2 separate regions of the Homo sapiens genome follow, and region 2 is linked to region 1. Evidence: fine-mapped expression QTL. A gene starts in region 1. The other region holds a variant in brackets. All regions are shown on one strand. Distances are from middle to middle. Region 1 holds the start of SCML4 (Scm polycomb group protein like 4). Region 2 overlaps SCML4 (Scm polycomb group protein like 4).

Region 1 (5,385 bases):
AAGTCTATCTTTGTACTTTGGGGTAGTGCTTGAATTTTTTAATAGGAAAGTGTTACTGAGTATTTTTTTAAAGTCAATATTGTTTTGAACTCTCATTATAAAAGTTCTTGCAGCAAGTGACAGTATTTGGGTCTGGCTTGTTTTCTGTGGGCTGAGCTGCTTAGCTTACCTGCTGCTTGCTAGAGGAGACAGCCTTTCACCCTCACCCCCAGGAGTCAAGAACCAGAAAGTGAAACTGCTTCTGCTGATTTCCCTCGCCTCGAAAACACACCACCAAAAGCAAAGAAATGATGAAAAGCAACTTACTCGTTTCGCTTATTGTTTTCTTGTCTTTCTATTACCGTTCATTTACTCTTTTCTTTTTTTCTTTTCTTTTTTTTTTTTTGCAGCAAAATAAAAGTAATTTTGGGGACACAGGGAAGAAATGTAAACATGTTATACATGAAAGAACTGGATTTTTGTGGGCTTTGCACTTTTGTTATAATTCCACAAATGAAGCAAACTGATGAATTTACCAAAATATTTCAGAGCTCATCTACGTACACAATTTAAAGAGCTAAAGAAAACACATTCATATTTTTTAAAAATTCTGTCAAAAAGCCTGTTTAAAAGTTATAGTTTGTGAAGCCACCAATTTCCCTAAAACTGAAGATTCTACATTAACCTTTTGAGTTTAGACGATCACGCAGTACCGATTTTCTAGGTAATCTTCACCCAGCTGCTGTTGCTCAAACAGCCCCTCATTTTATCAGACTAGTTCTACCAAGCAACACAAAAAATGCTCCACACAAATATTATACCCCCCAGATAGTTTAACACACTAAGAATTCCTTTGTAGTTATTTTTATGCTTTCACTCCAGATATTCTATTTTGCTTTAAAAAAAAAAAAGTGGAGAAAAAAAGCAGCTATATCCCTCATTCTTCAAAAATGGTTCCTCTGGTTGAAAAGAAAGAAAAACAGCATATAACAAATACCCTGATTCTGAAGTGCCTGGATTACTTTCTCAAGTACTGTAGTGTCTGAGATCAGTAAAAAACCACTTTCTCAGAAAGCCACTGATTGTCTAACCCTCATGAGTACCGTCATGGAATCTAGAGACAACACGAGGAGACACCTCTCGTTCACGATCACAGATAGTGGAAAGAACTTTGACTCAAGCACCTCAACTCAGCAAAACAGCTCAGCAGCCTGCACCCTGGCCTCATCCACCGCTCCTGTCCAGCCAGCAATCAACCTGGAGAGGACCCCTCATGCTTTGGGAGGAGCACGTGGAAGCTGGTTCAAGTCACAGTGCTCCACCTGGGAAGGAGGTGATTTTGAGCTTGGGAAAACTGCCGCTAATACTCCATAGTCACCAGTTTTTTTCCCAAAAAACGAATTAAAACCAGAAACTAGCAGTAAATATTATTCTTATTTATGCCTCATAAATTAGGAAAAACCAGCACAAAGACATGTGAAATATTCTACCTGGGATATTTGAAATAAAATTAAATGGGAAAAAAAACACTTTTACATGTTCATAACATACCAATTTTAATAACCAAATTTTAGGTAAATATTTTTATCCCAAGACATAGTACAATTTTTTTAAAATTAAAAAGCAAAACAAAGCAAAATTATCGTGAAGGGAAAAAATAACTAACCGGTTACTTGAGTTCACATTTGGAAAAAAATAACTTTCTAGGTATTTAAATGCAGAGTTAAAGAGTAATGAACATGTATATAGCCCAAATTTATAAACTATATAATTCAATGTTACATTTTCCCCTCTGAGATCTGGTTAATAAATTAAATGCTGTACTTTGCATATGAGGAACTAAAGTTTACCTACTGGACTCAGTGGTTTTAGTGCAGGACACTCTTGTGCGTTGCCATAGAGGTAGGCATGCAACCCAGAAAAAACTGAAACAGGTAACCTGTCATGCTGACAGTTACAAGAGAAAGATCCCGTGTCAACGGCACGCCTCCAATTGTGCATCTCCCTTACCTACAGCTTGTTCACCAGAGCCCTGAGCAGGTTGTTTACCAGGTCGGGAGTGTTGACTCAGAAGACAGATGACTTTCAGCACATGCAAACCGAGTATTGCAAAAGCTATCTTCCACCCGTGTTAGTAGCTCACAGTTAGTCTCCAGCAGCCCTGCGCTCCAGCTGCAAACATCTCATTAGACTAATGCATTCAGCACAGGCAGAAAACTCGATTTACCATAGCTACAGCAATGAATTTCCATTACGATGACAGCTTCAACCACATCATGTCCGGAAAACCAGCCAACCACTGGCTTTTAAAGAACACACACATTTTACATGCAGAAAACGAGGCCTCTGTGTGTGTGTGTGTGTGTGTGTGTGTGTGTGTGTGTGTGTGTGTGTGTGTGTGTTTTGTGTTTCCTTCCTCTTAGCAGCCTAAGAGAAATGTGCAGTGTAGCTTTTTGTCGACATGAGCTGCAAGGTAATGACACTTCTGCTTCTTTGGTAGTTACATCCTTGTAATAACCTGAATTATGTCACAATGGTTAGAATGGGTGTTTCCAACATTTCAGTTTTCATTACCCCTCCTCTGTTGCCATAGAAACCAGACTGTAACATCGTCTCTTTGTCCCAATCCTGCAGCAGTGTGGGCCAACACCAGGCTTATAAGACACTGGTGATCTGACAGAGTGAATGTTTGACTTTGGACAAATAAAACAAAAAGAAATATTACAATAGCATCATTGTTCAGGAGACCCTGTGTGATTCCCAGAGCAGTGTGCCTATCCAGGTGTGTGCACACACCATGGTTGTACATATTAAATCAGCGGCTGCCCACAACATATGTGTACAGTTCATTAAAGCCGGCCCTGACTTTGGCTCCAGGCCTGTATGTGTGTGTGTGTAAGCATCTCTACCCACCTCAACGTGGTGGGACCTGCACAGGATAGAAACAGGGCAAGAGTGACTATTCATTCCCATGCCCCATTGCATTTTCTGCAGCAAATCAATATATATCGGCGAAGGGATCTTTTCTTTTCCTTTCTTTTTGTAAAGTGGAGCAGGGCTCCCCATTGCCCATTTCATCCACTCTGGGATATTGGCATATTCACAGGTATTTCCTACAAGATGAAACATCCATTCTACAAACATGTGGCTTACTCCTAGGGATGAGCAGCAAACAAATTTAGCCGGGACTAAATATCAACCAGGGCTAACGAAGGCTTAGGCCACAACCTGGCCAGTTACTGAGAGTGAAAAAAACTGCAATGGACAACTTGAGGTTTCTCTAAATATATGTGTAGAGTCACATTAGAAGTACATAAGAAATCTCTCCTCTGAAATTTATTATGAAAATATAAAAAATTGTTTTAAGTCAAAGCCTTGTAATTAATTGAGCAAGAAGAAATTCACTACTTTAGTTCATTTAATCATCAAATTTTGTTGTTTTGTATGGGAAAAGGCAGGTTTGGTAGTTTGCATTTTCATTTCATATAAGTTGATTTCACTAAAGAAGGAGGAAGAGGAGAAGAAAAGAAAATAAGATGGATGGGCCAGGTGCAGTGGCTCATGCCTGTAATCCCAGCACTTTGGGAGGCCAAGGCGGGTGGATCACGAGGTCAGGAGATCGAGACCATCCTGTGAATGGTGAAACCCCGTCTCTACTAAAAATACAAAAAATTAGCTGGGCGTGGTGGCGGGCGCCTGTAGTCCCAGCTACTTGGGAGGCTGAGGAGGGAGAATGGCGTGAACCCGGGAGGCGGAGCTCACAGTGAGCCGATACCGTGCCACTGCACTCCAGCCTGGGTGACAGAGCGAGACTCCATCTCAAAAAAAAAAAAAAAAAAAAGAAAATAAGATGGATGGGCTAGGTGTGGTGGCTCATGCCTGTAATCCCAGCATTTTGGGACTCCTGGACTTGAGGTTAGGAGTTCGAGACCAGACTGGCCAACATGGTGAAACCCCATCTCTACTAAAAATACAAAAATTAGCCAGGCTTGGTGGCGCTTGCCTGTAATCCCAGCTACTCGGGAGGCTGAGGCAGGAGAATCGCTTGAACCTGGGAGGGAGAGGTTGCAGTGAGCTGAGATCACGCCATTGCACTCCAGCTTGGGTGACAAGAGTGAAATTCCATCTCAAAAAAAAAGAAAAAAGAAAGAAAAAGAAAAGAAGAAAAGAAAAGAAAAGAAAGAAAAGAAAAAGAAGAAAAGAAAAGGAAAGAAAAGGAAAGAAGATGGATGATTTAAGTTTGGACAGCATCTCTGTCCCAGCGACAGCGGTTATTATACTCACACCCGTGGCCTCACACATGCCACACTACACTGAGCTTAAAGCACCTGGAATGGGCTGAGACATTAGACCAATTTTCACTCTAAAATGTTTCTTAGGATTAAAAAAAATAACATTTCTTAAGTAATCAGAAATAATCTCCAAGTCCTGTAAAAGAAGTAAAAGGGTTGGCAGAATCTACCCATAAGAAAGGAGTTGCTGGTTTTCCTACCCAGCTCTGTGAGGGTTTCTCACTCTGATCCTCAGGCCCAACCTCCTTGCCTCCTCCCAGATGGGCTACTGTTGTCCTTGTCCTCAAGGTGGGTGCATGTGGGAAGCACCCATTGTCATCTAACAGGTCAACTTGGTAATAAAGCCTAAAATTGAAATCAACAAAAGCTGGATTGCTTGGGCGCGGTGGCTCACGCCTGTAATCCCAGCACTTTGGGAGGCTGAGGTGGGCAGATCACAAGGTCAGGAGATCGAGACCATCCTGGCTAACACGGTGAAACCCCGTCTCTACTAAAAATACAAAAAATTAGCTGGGAGTGGTGGCAGGCGCCTGTAGTCCCAGCTACTTGGGAGGCTGAGGCAGGAGAATGGTGTGAACCCGGGAGGCGGAGCTTGCAGTGAGCCGAGATCACGCCACTGCACTACAGCCTGGGCGACAGAGCGAGACTCCGTCTCAAAAAATATATATATTTTTTATATATATGTATATATTTAAGTAAACAATATTTATTTACTTAAATATGTTATTCAAAATATTTGATATTTAATAAATTATTCATTAAATTATGTAATTTAATAAATTTAATAAATATGTAAATATATTTATTTAAATATATCTTTATATTTTTATTTAAATATATTTACATTTTTATTTAAATATATATTTACATTTTTATTTAAATATATATTTGTTTTTTACTTAAATGTATATTTTTATTTAAATATATCTTTATATTTTTTACTTAAATTTTTTTATTTAAATATATCTGTATATACACACATTTATTAAAATATATATATTTAAACTTACTGGGATTTCTTTCTTCATGCAACCAGGAACATAGCTTTTAATAACTTAAATCAATATTTTAAAAAATCCTAAATGTTTTTAATTCCAAGAAAAATTTAAGTTAA
Region 2 (5,385 bases), 37 kb before region 1:
TCCTGGGTGGATAGAGGGGTGAGTGGCCAATGGCCTTGTAGTAGCACCTCCCAAGCCTCCCACACTCTCATGCTCAGAGAGGATCACAGGTCACTCTTCCAGGACTGAGATCAGCCGTGGTCCAGCCTTGCCTATGTGGCCCATGTGGAGATGTGCAAGGTCACCGGGGTGCTGTGGTGGAGCCTGTCCTCTGCACTCCCCTCCTGACTTTGAGAAGTTAAATAGCTAGTAAGGGAGAGGAGACATCTGTACATGATATGGCAGGAGGACAGTTCTGAAGCAACTAGTATCTCACGGATAATGACCTAAGAGCCCAGGATGCTCAGAAAAAAAGAGAGGTCCTACGAGGCTGAGGTTTTCCAGGGCCACAAAACAGCCAAGGGAGGGGCAGAGCCTGGCGCATACCCTGCCTGACAGCTCCTCCGCACCTCACCCTCACTAGCTCCTTGCAGCCTAGTACTCCAAGGGGGCCTTGGGGTGCTCCCATTTTGCTACCAACCCTAGAGGACATCTAGGACAGCTAGGCTGAAGGCTCCCCTGTGTGCAGCCCTGCAGTCCCACTTTCCCTACTCCTAGCTCATTCCAGAAGGCTTTCATTATTATTTCCAAGTCTAAGAAAGTCTTCTGGAATAATGAAACTGACCTGCTTCTAATCTGAATCAAAGCTACAATGAGAACTCAAGTGAGTTGGATCGCAGCAGGTCTCAGAAGCTTCTAATCTGGGGCCCCCACTCATGGTTTTGTCTAAGGTTGGAGTCAAAGAAGAGGCATTACTTGTTCTTTGCTCAGCAAGAGGGAGCTTATCCTCTCTCCCACCAGTGTCAGTTTCTGCCTGAAATGTGAGTGGTTTCCCCTGGCTAGATGAAAAGGAGCCACCTACAAAAATTTGTGTTTCTCAAGGAAGTGGCTTTCCAGAGGCTCCTCCCCCACAGTCTTGCCTGAAAATTGCTACTTGGACAGAATCTTTCTATTCTACATCCTTTCTTGTGGCTGTAATTGACCCATTTCTATCACAGCACCTACAACATGTTATTCTGTTTATTGGCATCCCTGTCTCTCTGTTCTAATATGCTTGAGCTCCTTGGAGAAGGCTCTGTGTCTTCTTCCATCTATCCCCACCTGGTTCAGTGTCTGGCACATCTTAAGGATTGACAAATATTTATTAAATAAATGATGTATGAACAAATGAATGGACGATCAGTGTCCCAGCCCTCTTCCAGGACTCCTCCTATTCCTTAGCACTGAGGCAGCAGAGTCCAGCCCAGGGTACTTGTCTTTTGTTTTTAGTAGTGGCCACCAGGCTCAGAAATTTACCTGCAGAGGACTCAGCAACCACTTTCCAACAACAAGGCCACTGCAATAAGACGCAGAGCATCCCATGCTGCCAAGATGGCTCTTCGCCTACTTCATCTCTTTTAATTTTCACAATGGTTTTGAGATAAGCATTACTGTCCTCGGATTTCCAGATGAGGAGCTAAGGCCCAGAGAGGCTACATGAGATCACCCATTAGTGGGCAGAGGGTAGATTCCACCCCAGAGCTCTCTGCATAACTCCCTACAGCTGTCTCCCTGTGTCGGCCCTGGACAGAATTCAGAGAGCTGGCAACAGAGCTGGCTGGGGGACAGGAGAGAAATCTGATCCTTCAGGCCACATCTCCATGTCTCTATAGGATATAAAGAAATGGGACTGATACAACATGAAAGCTTGGATGGTATAAAGTAACCCAGTCAACTCTCTGGGCATGAAATAACCGGGTGAATAGAACAACATAATTATTTATTGCCTACAGAGCTGATCCGAATTTTTTTTTGAAGATTGCTAAAGAGTGGTTGCAGGCAGCAGTAAGACAGCAATTGCTGCGAGACACTTGTCTCTGCTAAGGAGGCAGCAGCTGCGACTGTCACTCAGCCTCGGCACTCACATCCCACAGTGTAAGGAAAGACACCTTAGAATGCAGCTACACACACACATATATATATATTTTTGCAAACCACTATTTCCTGTTTTGTTCTCTATTTATACTTTACATTTAGTTTTGAGAAAGCGCTGGTGGTTTGGTGTTTGGGTTGTTTCTAGTTCAATCTTTATCTATAAAGCAAATTCTCTTTTCAAGATGATTTTTTGTAATATAAACCAACAGTATAGCTAGATTCCTTTCACATACTTTGCTAATAAAAATTCTTACAACTTCAACAATAAAGCAACAAGATTCAAATAACACAAATCACAACTCTCCAAGTCGGCACCTTGCCAAGTAGGAATCCATTCACCAGTCTTGCGGGGGTGGGGTTGTGAATTCTTCAAGGAATTCCAACAGACATTTTCACACAGATTTTCAGGCATATAGATGCTCATCCTGAAGTACAGAAATGTGTAACTATGATACCTTCATATGATACTCTTTGGAAAACACTGAAGTATCTAAAACACTTTGTTACTGCTATGTAATGACACATAGCAACCCAATGTTTGCCCTCCAAGAACTGTCTAAGAAAGATACCACCTCGGACCCAGGGAACAATCAGCAGAAAATAAACATGAAAACAGCACCAGGACCAATGCCTTCACCTCTTGTGCAGGTCAAGGAAAGATGCATTTAGAGGTAAAAGGCAAGAGCAAGTGCACAGTTATCGTGAAATTGATTTTGTTTCTCCACATTTGGTAGCTGAAAGCTTTGCTTCCCCAATAGACAAGGACCATGTTTCTGCAAGGACCAGGAAAGCTGGCTTTGCATTGCAGTGGGCAGTAAGCAGAATAGCAGAGTGACTCTTGGGTATCAGTGTCCTGCCCTGTCAAACGGAGACTTCAGTACTTGCCAGAGCCATGTCACCAGGCTGCCATAAGGATCCCATGAGAAAATGACCATGAGATCCTGTCATAATTGGTAAACCCTGTGTGATACAAATTACTATTCTTCCTGGGTAATTATTTTCTTTTGTTCTCTTTGTAGAGAACAGAGAGTCAATAGAAACTCTATTTCCAACCATCTTGTTTGCAGTGTCCCTAAAGGCAACATAAAGACAGATCATTTCTTTTTATTTGCCAAGCAAAAGAAATACACCCATCCAGACAATGCGACATTCCTCATCTTTTTCTACAGAGCATCACGTTAGTCTTGTCTCCCATCTAGATGATGCCCATCTCATGGGGGTGAAGCTGCTACCAACACCCTGGTATTAGGGAGGGTTTTAGAGCTCTCTAGAAAGCTGTGAGCCAGGGAGGAAGGCTAGGGTACTGGTGGTGCCTGACACTGTCGCCATCATTGTATGTACAGTCACTACACACCGGTTTATTCTCCCCTCTTATTTCACAAAGAAAAAGCCCAGGGTCTTCAAATACTAGGAAAGTAAAATGTCACCAGGTCTGAGAACAGAATGGGTGAAAGAGTGGGGGCTGGAGCAAGGAGCATAGGAAAACTCTCCCCCA[G/T]TGTGTGTTTCCCTGACTTACAGGAAAGAAGACAAAATGCAGCCTAATTTGCTTCTGGTCACCAAGTATCACAAAGGCTTCTCAGCTGTCCTGATAGGCACAGTCCCAGCGTTGCTCCACCAGGGACACTGTGGGCAGGTCACTACTTCTCTGGCCCATGTCCCTCAGTGGCCACTCTTACACAGCCTGTTGGTTCCGCAGGCTTCACAAGTACTGCAAGACCAAGGTCAAAAGCGAATTCTTAACCCTCAAAGGGAAGTACTGGCCAGAAGTGGACTATTCTCTTTCTCTCCTCAATCATCCCTTCAATCATTTGACAATATTTTCTGGGGACCTAGAGTGGCCAGACACTAAGCAGAGCACAGGGACGTGAAGATGAACCCAGAAAGATCCCTTCCTTGGATGTTTGTGGGTAGACGGGAGGGAAGCGGAGCACCTCTGGTCATCACATCTCCTCTGAGTCCCAGCCCATCCTGCCTCCCCACTGCCCCGCATAAACACAGGTCCCTTTCCAGGCGGGTTCCTCTGGCATGTTGTGGTGTGCAGACAGCGCACGGCTGAATTCCCTATGTCCTGCGTCGTTGACACACAGCTTCTCCATCGCAGTCTCCCAGAATCGAGGAGCCTAGGATACATGGGCAGGTCACACAGGAAGAAACAGCCACCACACACACTTAGTCCAGACAAAGACAGTGGCCAATAATCACAAACACAGAATCTCTGGAGACCAGGCCTGCCGGCCCACAGCAAAACCACCAGATTCATCTCTGAGTCGTCCCTGAACAAGTCCTCCTTCCCTCAGAGCACCACACCTGTGGAAGGGAGGATTCCCAGCCTTGGTGGCCTCTCCCCTCACACTCATGTCCCCCGGGCTGTGGGCACTGATCCTGACACACACCACTGCACACAGGGCCCAGCTCACAGGACCAGCAAAGCAACAAATAGTGGGTGAATAAATGAATTAATAAAACGTACATACATGCATATATTATTTTATTAAATTCTCACTACAAGACTTTAAGGCAAATATTATTACGTACTCCCACCGTATAGATGGAGAGTCTGTCAAATCTATACAGATGACAGCTCAGGAAGGCTCCAGATCTTGTGAAAAGTGGCACAAGTCCAGTCTAGTCCAGCCTTTCAGCACTGGCACCTGGTCAACGAGAGGTTAGCTGCTGAGAGATCCAAGAAGTTTCATCTCCCAGCGCTTCTGTTTCTAGCTGGAGGTGGGTGGGAGATGTTGCATTTTACCAGCTGACTTCTCAAGATCAAAAAGCCAGGAAGCTTTGCAATCACCCTGAGACAAGTCAACAGTAGTATTACCATGGACAATATCTTGCCTGGTGAAAATCTATGTGACCTCTTGGGGCTTTGCATACAGTGAATCCTCCGCCAATATGGTTTGATTGACTCATAGAAAGAAAGGGGGAGAGAGAGCAATACAATGATACAATTGAGGACTTCCACTTCTTAGTTGCAAAAAGAAAGGTCAGAAAAGGAAAAATAACAACACTTTTTTCCTGCTTTCTCTCCCTCGGGGGTTAGCCAGCAAACAGGGGCTTACCGGATTATTTTCTAGGTCTTCTCCCCTTCGCAAAGGTCTCCTGGGGCCATGCAACAGCCGTTAAGTCAATTCTTAATTAGCTTTCACAGTTTACCTTTTGAAAATCCATATCTGTATGAATATTTATTGGACGCTTACTAAATGCAAGGCATTTGTCCCAGGCCCTGAAGATACAAAGGGATGTCAAACAAGCGTGCAAACAGAAAGGCACACACAGCATCAGGAATGGCCAGACGAGGACAACCATCCACACCTACTGCAGGAACCAACAAGTCCCACAAAGGTCAAAGCACCAAACAGGCCAGGCATGGTGGCTCATGTCTGTAATCCCAGCACTTTGGAAGGCTAAGGCGGACGGATCACGGGAGGTCAGGAGTTCGAGACCAGACTG

The links. PIP is the estimated chance that this variant, and not a neighbour inherited with it, causes the effect.
Region 2: its variant is the best candidate, but not a certain one, in a credible set for the expression of SCML4 in whole blood (TOPMed, PIP 0.51).

What each region holds. Positions count from the first base shown.
Region 1 is chr6:107,822,137-107,827,521 of GRCh38, forward strand. SCML4 (Scm polycomb group protein like 4) reads right to left here and starts at 2,177. Exons shown (of 8, transcript NM_198081.5): 1 at 1,990-2,177. RefSeq lists an enhancer at 260-329.
Region 2 is chr6:107,785,495-107,790,879 of GRCh38, forward strand. All of the region lies in intron 1 of SCML4 (Scm polycomb group protein like 4), which reads right to left. Among named protein-coding and RNA genes, the nearest start is that of SCML4, 36 kb to the right of the region's middle. The variant G/T (reference allele first, on the strand shown) is at 3,428.